2 separate regions of the Homo sapiens genome follow, and region 1 is reported to be linked to region 2. The links are microRNA targets in miRTarBase. Many come from high-throughput screens and were not tested one by one. Region 2 holds a microRNA gene; the other region holds the end of a gene's coding sequence.

What was found. Region 2 holds the annotated microRNA hsa-miR-4786-5p (UGAGACCAGGACUGGAUGCACC, at 1,606-1,627, opposite strand). A microRNA usually pairs through its seed, bases 2 to 8, with sites in the 3' UTR of a target mRNA and lowers its output. Matches are read on the target gene's strand: a 7mer-m8 pairs with bases 2 to 8, a 7mer-A1 pairs with bases 2 to 7 and ends in A, and an 8mer does both.
Region 1: the mRNA of PLEKHG2 is a reported target of hsa-miR-4786-5p. Seed matches in the 3' UTR shown: 7mer-m8 at 1,474-1,480.

Annotation. Positions count from the first base shown.
Region 1 is chr19:39,424,663-39,428,721 of GRCh38, reverse strand. It overlaps PLEKHG2 (pleckstrin homology and RhoGEF domain containing G2), which reads right to left. Exons shown (of 19, transcript NM_022835.3): 19 at 307-4,059. The coding sequence ends at 3,428. Among named protein-coding and RNA genes, the nearest start is that of RPS16, 9.3 kb to the left of the region's middle. RefSeq lists a silencer at 1-253 and an enhancer at 24-669.
Region 2 is chr2:239,941,458-239,945,525 of GRCh38, forward strand. MIR4786 (microRNA 4786) reads right to left here and starts at 1,637; the gene lies at 1,558-1,637. It also overlaps a transcript of NDUFA10 not described here. RefSeq lists enhancers at 3,328-4,068, 3,833-3,882, 4,013-4,068.

The sequences.
Region 1 (4,059 bases), not on the chromosome of region 2:
CTGGAAAGGGGCTTGCCTCTCCTTCCCAGCTCCAGGCCTTGGAGTAGACAGGCCCCTTCTCCCTCCCTGCCTCCTCGAATACCGGGAATTCCGACGCCGCTGGGAGCCTGGGCCAGGCTGAGAACTTTCCTTCAGCCGGGAATGTGCAGCTGGGGCGGAGGAGGGGAGCGTCGGCTGCGGTCCTGACCTTGGGGAGGCTCCAGTGGAGTGGATCACTCCAGGCTGAGGAGTTCACCTCCGTCACCACGGGGCCCCCGGGACACAGCCTCGGCCCTGGTGTACAGTAGCCAGTCAATAAACAGTAAGTGAGCAGAAGCCAGCAGCTAATATTTATTGAGCCAGGCCCTGTGCTGGCAACTGTGCTCAGCTAATTATCAGAATCCCCTGAGGTGTGCACAGTACCAGGCCACAAGCCTCATGCGGGCAAGGCAGTGTTCTCTCATGTATCCCCACTGGCAAGAACAGCACCCGGCACAGGATAGGCACATTTATTTATGTATTTCATTTTATTTTTTTGAGACAGTTTTGCTCGTCTCCCAGGCTGGAGTCTAGTGGCGCAATCTCGGTTCACTGCAACCTCCACCTCCCAGGTTCAAGTGATTCTCCTGCCTCAGCCTCCTGAGTAGCTAGGATTACCGGCACCCACCACCACGCCCAGCTAATTTTTTGTATTTTTAGTAAAGACGGGATTTCACCATGTTGGCCAGGCTGGTGTGGTCTCGAACTCCTCACTTCAAGTGATCCACCTGCCTTGGCCTCACGAAGTGTTGGGATTACAGGCGTGAGCCACCGCACCTGGCCAGGACAGGCAAATTTAATGGTAGACTTAAGCCAAGCTGTGTGGATTCGAGTCTCAGTGCTGCACCTTCCTAGCTGTGCGACTAGGCAAATCCCTTAGCCTCTCTGTGCCTGCCTCAGTTTCCTCACCTCTAGACTGAGGATTAAAAAACATGCTCACTTGCATATTAGGAATGTAATGAGGACAGTGAACGAGCTTATATAAAGCGGCTGTAATGCTCATAGTATGTGCTTAGTACCCAGGAAATCTCAGCTTATTTGCTGCTAACTGATTGCTAAAAATTCAGATTCCTGGGCAGGGTATGGTAGCTCACGCCTGTAAACCCAACACTTTGGGAGGCCGAGGTGGGCGGATCACCTGAGGTCAGGAGTCCAAGACCACTATGGCCTGGCCAATATGGCGAAATCCCGTCTCTACTACAAAATACAAAAATTAGCTGGGCGTGGTCGTGGGCGCCTGCAATCCCAGCTAGAGGCAGGAGAATCACTTGAACCTGGGAGGCAGAGGTTGCAGTGAGCCGAGATCATGCTATTGAACTCCAGCCTGGGCAACAAGAGCGAAACTCCGTCTAAAAAAAAAAAAAAATTCGGATTCCCAGCCAGGAATGATGGCTCACGCCTGTAATGCCAGCACTTTGGGAGGCCGAGGCGGGAGGATCACGAGGTCAGGAGATCGAGACCATCCTGGCTAACATGGTAAAACCCCGTCTCTACTAAAAATACCAAAAAAATTAGCCGGGCGTGGTGGCGGGCACCTGTGGTCCCAGCTACTCGGGAGGCTGAGGCAGGAGAATGGCGTGAACCCGGGAAGCGGAGCTTGCAGTGAGCCAAGATCGTGCCACTGTACTCCAGCCTGGGCAACAGAGCGAGACTCTGTCTCAAAAACAAAACAACAACAACAACAACGAAAAATTAGCTGGGCATGGTGGTGCACGCCTATAATCCCAGCTATGTCGGGAAGCTGAGGCATGAGAATTGCTTGAACCCAGGAGGTGGAGGTTGCAATGAGCCAAGATTTTGCCACTGCACTCAAGCCTGGGTGACAGAGTGAGACTTTATCTAAAAAAAAAAAAAAAAATCAGATTCCCAAGCTCCTCCTTCCCTGGGGATCCTGATTCAATAGGTTGGGACTAGATACTGGGGGATCTGTGATTTGAATGATGCTCCTAAGCAAGTCAGAGGTTCAAATATGTTTGGGAAGTGGAAGGATATGCTCCCTAAATCTTTCAATGATCCCAGGAGGGAAGTACTGTTGTCTTCATTTTGTAGATGAGAAAACCGGCTCAGAGGGAGGACCCACACCAAATAAGTAAAGATGGGACTTGAATTCACAGCCAGGACACCAGGGTGCTTCAGAGAATCCTAGGGGAGCTTACATAAATAATGTGCTAAAGCACAAGAGGCTAAGTATTTGATGAAAGTAGCTAATATCATCACCAAAGAAACCGTTTAAATTGTGCCTCTCACTGGGCATACCACTGCTGGAACAAGGGGGCAGACAGAACCTAACATAAAAGCCTTTTGTCTCCACGACCTGAATTATTTTGCTGGGGGAGGGAGCATGTGGATGAATTGTAGAGGCTGCAAACTGCGGGGAGGAGTGAAGGGATCTGAGGTATGTGAGTGGGTACAAGAACTGGGATATTCAAGAGGAACTGACGGGAAGGATGCCAAGGGAAATCAGACAGATGTGGGACAGACTTATCCCAGAGCCCCAAAATTGATCTCCCCCGTATCAGCATGGAATTGTCTCTGAAGTATCATAGTACTAAGACCCCGGAGAGTCCAGTGAGGGAGGGATGGGGTATGTCGATGGATTGGGAGATGGCTGGGTGAATATGTATGGATGGCAAAATGAGTGGATGAATGGACAGATGGAAATATGGAGGGAGAGACGGACTGATGAACGGAGTGCTGGATGGAGAAGATGGGTAAGTGGGAAGATGGATAAATGGAGGGATGGAATGCCAGATGGGGTTAGAATGATAAAGGGATGGGTGGGTGAATAAGGCAGACAGTTGGATAAGCAAGGCAGATACGTGAGATGATGGATTGGAAGATGGGTAGATGGAGCGGGAAAGCTAGATGGAGCAATAGCCAGATGGATAGGTGGAGAGATGGCAGGGTGGGTGAGATGAACGGATGGTGGGAGACGTGAACTGTATAAATTGCCAAGGGAATGGATTTCTAGTGTCTACTTGAAGCAAAGCTTCTTAACTTGGCTTTCCTGGATGGGCATCAAGCAGTTCACACACACGCCAAGTTATAGTGGGTCCATTTTCCAATAATTCTCAAAGGAGTCTGAGATTCCCCAAGCTTTCAGAACCGCTGATTTGTTCTGTGTCAGACCTTCCCATTCATTGTCTTGTCATCTCCCACAGCCTCCAGAATGGGAAAATACACATCATTGCATGAAAGAATCAGTATTAACAAAACATTAATGACATTCCTCCCTTCCCCATCCCTGTGGATCAAGGCAAGAAGGGCCATTCGCCGATGCAGATACCAGGAGTTGGAAGGCCGCAGCAGTTTTGAGGCCTGCGTTCAGTGTCTGGACTTCCAGGTCAAGTTCTGAGGGTCTATGGCATCTGGCTGAAATCCTTGCTTCAGGGAAGCCTCATGTCCTGGCTCACATGTGGAAGGGGGCATCAGGAGCCCCCTGGGCCCTGTGAAGGCCCATAGATTCCTGTGTGGAGGCCAAGAGAGCAGGGTGGTTCAACCGGACCTGGGCCTTGGCTGGCCGCAGCCGCCCACCCCCGCCCACGTGGATGTTAACCGTCGTGGCATAGCTGAGCCGCCTGGCTGGGGGAGGTGGTGGCTGGGGCTGGGGGGGCGGCGAAGATGCCCGTGACGTGGGAGCAGAGGACCAGGAGCCCCGGGAGGCTGCGGGGGCCCCTCCCCCAGGCCCCTGCCGCCGAGCCAGGCTCTGGCTGATATATGAGGCTGCCAGGTATCTGGAGAGGGCAGCTGCATTGGGGCCCAGGAGCTGACGGCTGGAAGGTGGGGGACTATGAGGTGGCGTCAAGTCTGAAGACTCCAACCTGGCAACGTGAGAGGCTAAGGAGCCTCCTGGTTTGGACAAAACCATGGTGGTCTGAACTGGGGTGGGTGAGAGGCCCTGAATGTCTAGAGAGCCTCCTCTCTCAGGTAAAGGTGTGGCAGCTGGAACATGGGCATCTATGAGGCTCTTCTGCTCCAACGAAGGTGTGAGTTTTTGGACCTGTGTATCTGTAAGGCTTGGCTCCGGAAGTGGAGGTGCAG
Region 2 (4,068 bases):
GCTCACACCTATAATCCCAGCACTTTGGAAGGCCAAGGCGGGCAGATCACCTGAGGTCGGGAGTTGGAGACCAGACTGGCCAATATGGTAAAACTCCATCTCTACTAAAAATACAAAAATTAGCTGGGCATGATGGCGCACGTTTGTAATCCCAGCTTCTCAGGAGGCTGAGGTGGGAAAATGATTGAACCTGAGAGGCGGAGCTTGCAGGGAGCCAAGATCGCACCACTGCACTCCAGCCTGGGCAACAGAGTAAGACTCTGTCTCAAAAAAAAAAAAAGAAAAAAAGGTTCAAGGAAGAAAGGAAAAAAAATTCCAAATTCCTCTCTTCAGAAAAACCATCTACATCAGTGAACAACATCCTGATATTTTTATGCCTGTATATCAACAGAAACACAGGTATGCTTTCATGAAATGGGATCTATCAATGCTATTTTAAATTACATTTAATTTATTTTAATATCAGTTTTCAACATAAGCAAATGAAAGTAAAACTAGTGAATTTTCTGCACCAAAACAGTATGGACCTTAGATTTTAAAATCCTCTGAAATGAGAAAAACAAATGGATTCTGCATATTGAAAGATCACACCATGTGTGCACAAACTATTTCACTTGGAATCACTTTGGTCTGAACACCAGTGATTCTTTTGCCGGACTGCCTTTGTCCACCTTCCTATAAATTAGTTTTACATATACAAAGTTCACAACAGTTTTCATCCCTCTACCACGTTTACCTTTACTTACTGTGGCTGTCTTCAGCCTTTCCTCTAGGGCAGCGGTGTTCACGCGGTAGTGTGCGCTGCAATCACCTTGCTAAACACAGATGCTGCTGGGGCCCACCCACCAGGGCGCCTGAGCCAGCAGGCCTGGGTGCAGCCTAGACACCTGCATTTCCGACAAGCTCCCAGGTGGAGGCTGGGGCCGCTGGTCCAGGAGCCACACTTGGAGAACGATGGATTTCTGTCAATAGCAATTTCAGCCTTGCTATGTCGTTTGTTGCTGTTTGAAATGTATTGGTTTGGTTCTGACACTGTTTCGGTTCTGTTTGCTTCCTGAGGTCTGACATCTTATTTTCATTTCTTAGTCTTATACGTTGTTGACATTTATTTTATTGAATTCATGTTCTTATCAAACTGTTCTCTTAGGCAAAGCACAGGAATATTTTTTTTTTCTGTTCACGAGCTGTGCGTCCTCTGCCTTCCGCATGTTTATCTTGCGCATGCTGTGGTCCCTTCTCCAGCACTGAGTCACGGGTTTCTCTGTGGGACGTTTGCCTGTCACTTGCCCTCCCCTTCCCTGCCTTTCCATTCTCTTCAAGCCCGAGCAGCTCTGACTGGGTCCTCATATGTTTTAACACAGCACTGGAGGGGTTTTAACTCTTTCCACAAAACCTGGCAAAGGCTCGTCTTCCCCTCTTAGCCACAGGAAGCCCAGGCAGTTTGTGTTCAGGCCACCTTCGGGAAGCCTGCAAGGATGGTGGTGGCAGGAGGAGCTCAGCCGAAGTGGAAGAAGGTTCGTTCAAATGCTGAGGCTCTGCTCCTGCTTCTGGAATCCTGTGAAATGGCCCAGACCAGAGCTGGCTTCACCTCATCACAGGGAGAGTGGTGCATCCAGTCCTGGTCTCAGGCCATGCCCACAGGCCAACGCATCCCTGGAGCCTCCACTTCTTACGGAGAGTTTCAACTCACAGTTATCTTCCCATGTCTGCCAGAGGCATTGCAAGACTCCCTGTCTCCAGATCCCAAGCACAGAGGCGGCCTGGGGCTCCGCTTGTGTACCAGTGGGACTCAGGCTTGGTGGCAGGTCAGAGCCACACGAATCTGCCTTCTGCTCTACTCTGAAATCTTTTGCTTATTTTATTGGCTACTAATTTTTCTTTCTTTTTTTTTGAGATGGGGTCTCACAGTGCCACACAGGCTGGATGGAGTGCAGTGGCGCAATCAGAGCTCACTGCAGCCCCAATTTCCTGGGCTCAAGTGATCCTCCCGCCTCAGCCTCCCAAAGTGTTGGGATTACAGGCGTGAGCCACTACACCTGGTCTTTGGCTACAAATTTTCAAAGTGTATGGCCTTGTTTGTTTTCTGCTGGGATTATTTTTCTAGTTTTTCCTTTCTATTCTGTTAGGGACTGGGGGCAGGACACTGTGATTCCGCTTAATCCTGCTGTCTTTGACATTTTTTTAATGTCCATGAGCAGGGACAAATCTTAGTCTCATAAGAATGTGCCTGATTTGGGAAGCAGGCCTCACTCAGCACCGACCGCCCCTCCTGGCACAGCACTGGCATCCCCTGGTGTTCCATAAACACAGAGACTGAGAGATGAGCAGACGAGTATGGGCCCTGGATGCTCCCTGCAGCCCCTCTGCAGAGCTGGACCTGCAGTCCAAGACTCCTTGGGGATGAGGGGTCTAGGGTTTAGTCCCTGTCCCTGGACAGTGATGGAGCTAAAGGCATGGGGCAGCGTCTGTCCCTTTTATGGGGGGAAGCTGAGGCTGCTGGGGGCAGTGCCTGTCCCGAGATGTCCCCAGACTCAGGTGCTCTGCTCCTTCCTTCCCATAAATCCTGGGCCTCCCCTGTGTCCTAAGGGCCTGCGGCCACCTGGCTAGTCCTGTTGCTGGTCCTCCTCCAGGTGCAGGGCACCGGTGCCCGCAAAATGAGCCACCCTGCCCCTGACCACTGCAGCCAGGCCCCTGAGAGGAGGCACATGACTCAGCCCACCCCCTCCTGGCATTGTTATCCTCCTGCCAAGATCCTGAGGCCATGCCAGAAAGGACCTGGGGCCAGCCTAGACCTTTCCATCATTTCACGTAGGCAGCAGCCTTGCCAAAGTCCCCGGGGGCAGAGCGGCTGTTTGGGTCTGGCGTCTGCTCCAGCCTGGCGTCCCCCATGCTGAGTGTGGCCCCAGGGCCAGCGCCGCAGGCTGAGATCCCAAGGCTGCATCTCTGGCTCGGACCTCTGGTCACGGCTCAGGCTGGGTGCCTGGCTGGCCACCTCCCCTCACAGTGCTGTCAGACTCTCAGTGAGCTCATGGCGGGAAATGATTACCTTTCCATGTGAATTCAGGCCGGGTCTGGACAAGTGAGGAGGTGCACTTTCCTCCACATCTGTTTGAAAGTGATTTTCTTCATGGAACTGGCAGCGCGGATCAAGAAAAATGACTCAGAACCGACAAAAACTCCAGGTCTTCCAAGGAAACAAAATCAAACACCAGTGTGCCTAATGGAAGCCTCTGGCAGCCTGGAGAGTGCAGCTCGACAGCCCCTGGTGGTCCCAGGGCCTCTGCTCGCTCGTTAGCCAGGGTTTCCAGCTCAAGGAGCAAGCTCTGTCCACGCCCAGAGCCACCTGCCCCTGTCCCCAGAGCCTTGGGGCCATAGTAACTTTGGAGGAAACTGGTCCCCAAAGCTCGGCCAACCCGCCACCATCCGCAATAGAAGGCAAAGGCTGCAGGACCACCCTAGGTGGGGGGCACACTGGCCCTCCCAGGCTGCACCCCGCGCCCAGAGCTCATCTCCAGACACAGCCATGGGGGTGACTTCCCAGGGGGCCTGTGGAGGCTGCTTCTTTATTGCAAGGTGCCTCCCCGAGACAGAATTCCATGGTTTTGGTAGCAGACTCCCAGGCAAGCCTCCCTGCCTCTCCTCTCTCTATCCTCTACAGAAACCCAGGCACGTGTACAGCCATCAGAGCCCCGGCACCCCTCCCGCAGGAGGGCCTGACTGGGGAGGAAATGACAAGCCACTTCTCAGGTCACCGGCAGGCGTTGAGCAGGCCGCTCTGCAGACGCTGGGCTCCTTCATTTGCACAACCGCAGCGGCAGCGCCATCATTCCTCCTGCTTTGCAGCCAGGAAGACACGAGCTCACAGATCAGCAATTTGCCCAAAGTCACGCTGCTGCTGAGTGGAGACAGGAAATCAGAGCCTCCTTGCTACCCAGACCAAGCTCCTCACCTCTGAGCGTCGCTCCAGCTCCTTTCAAAGACGCTGGGAGGCCCCTCGGGGGAAGAGCGGACACCCCAACCGGAACGCAGGCTGCACCGCGAGGCTCCCTGCGCCCCACCGAGCCGGTC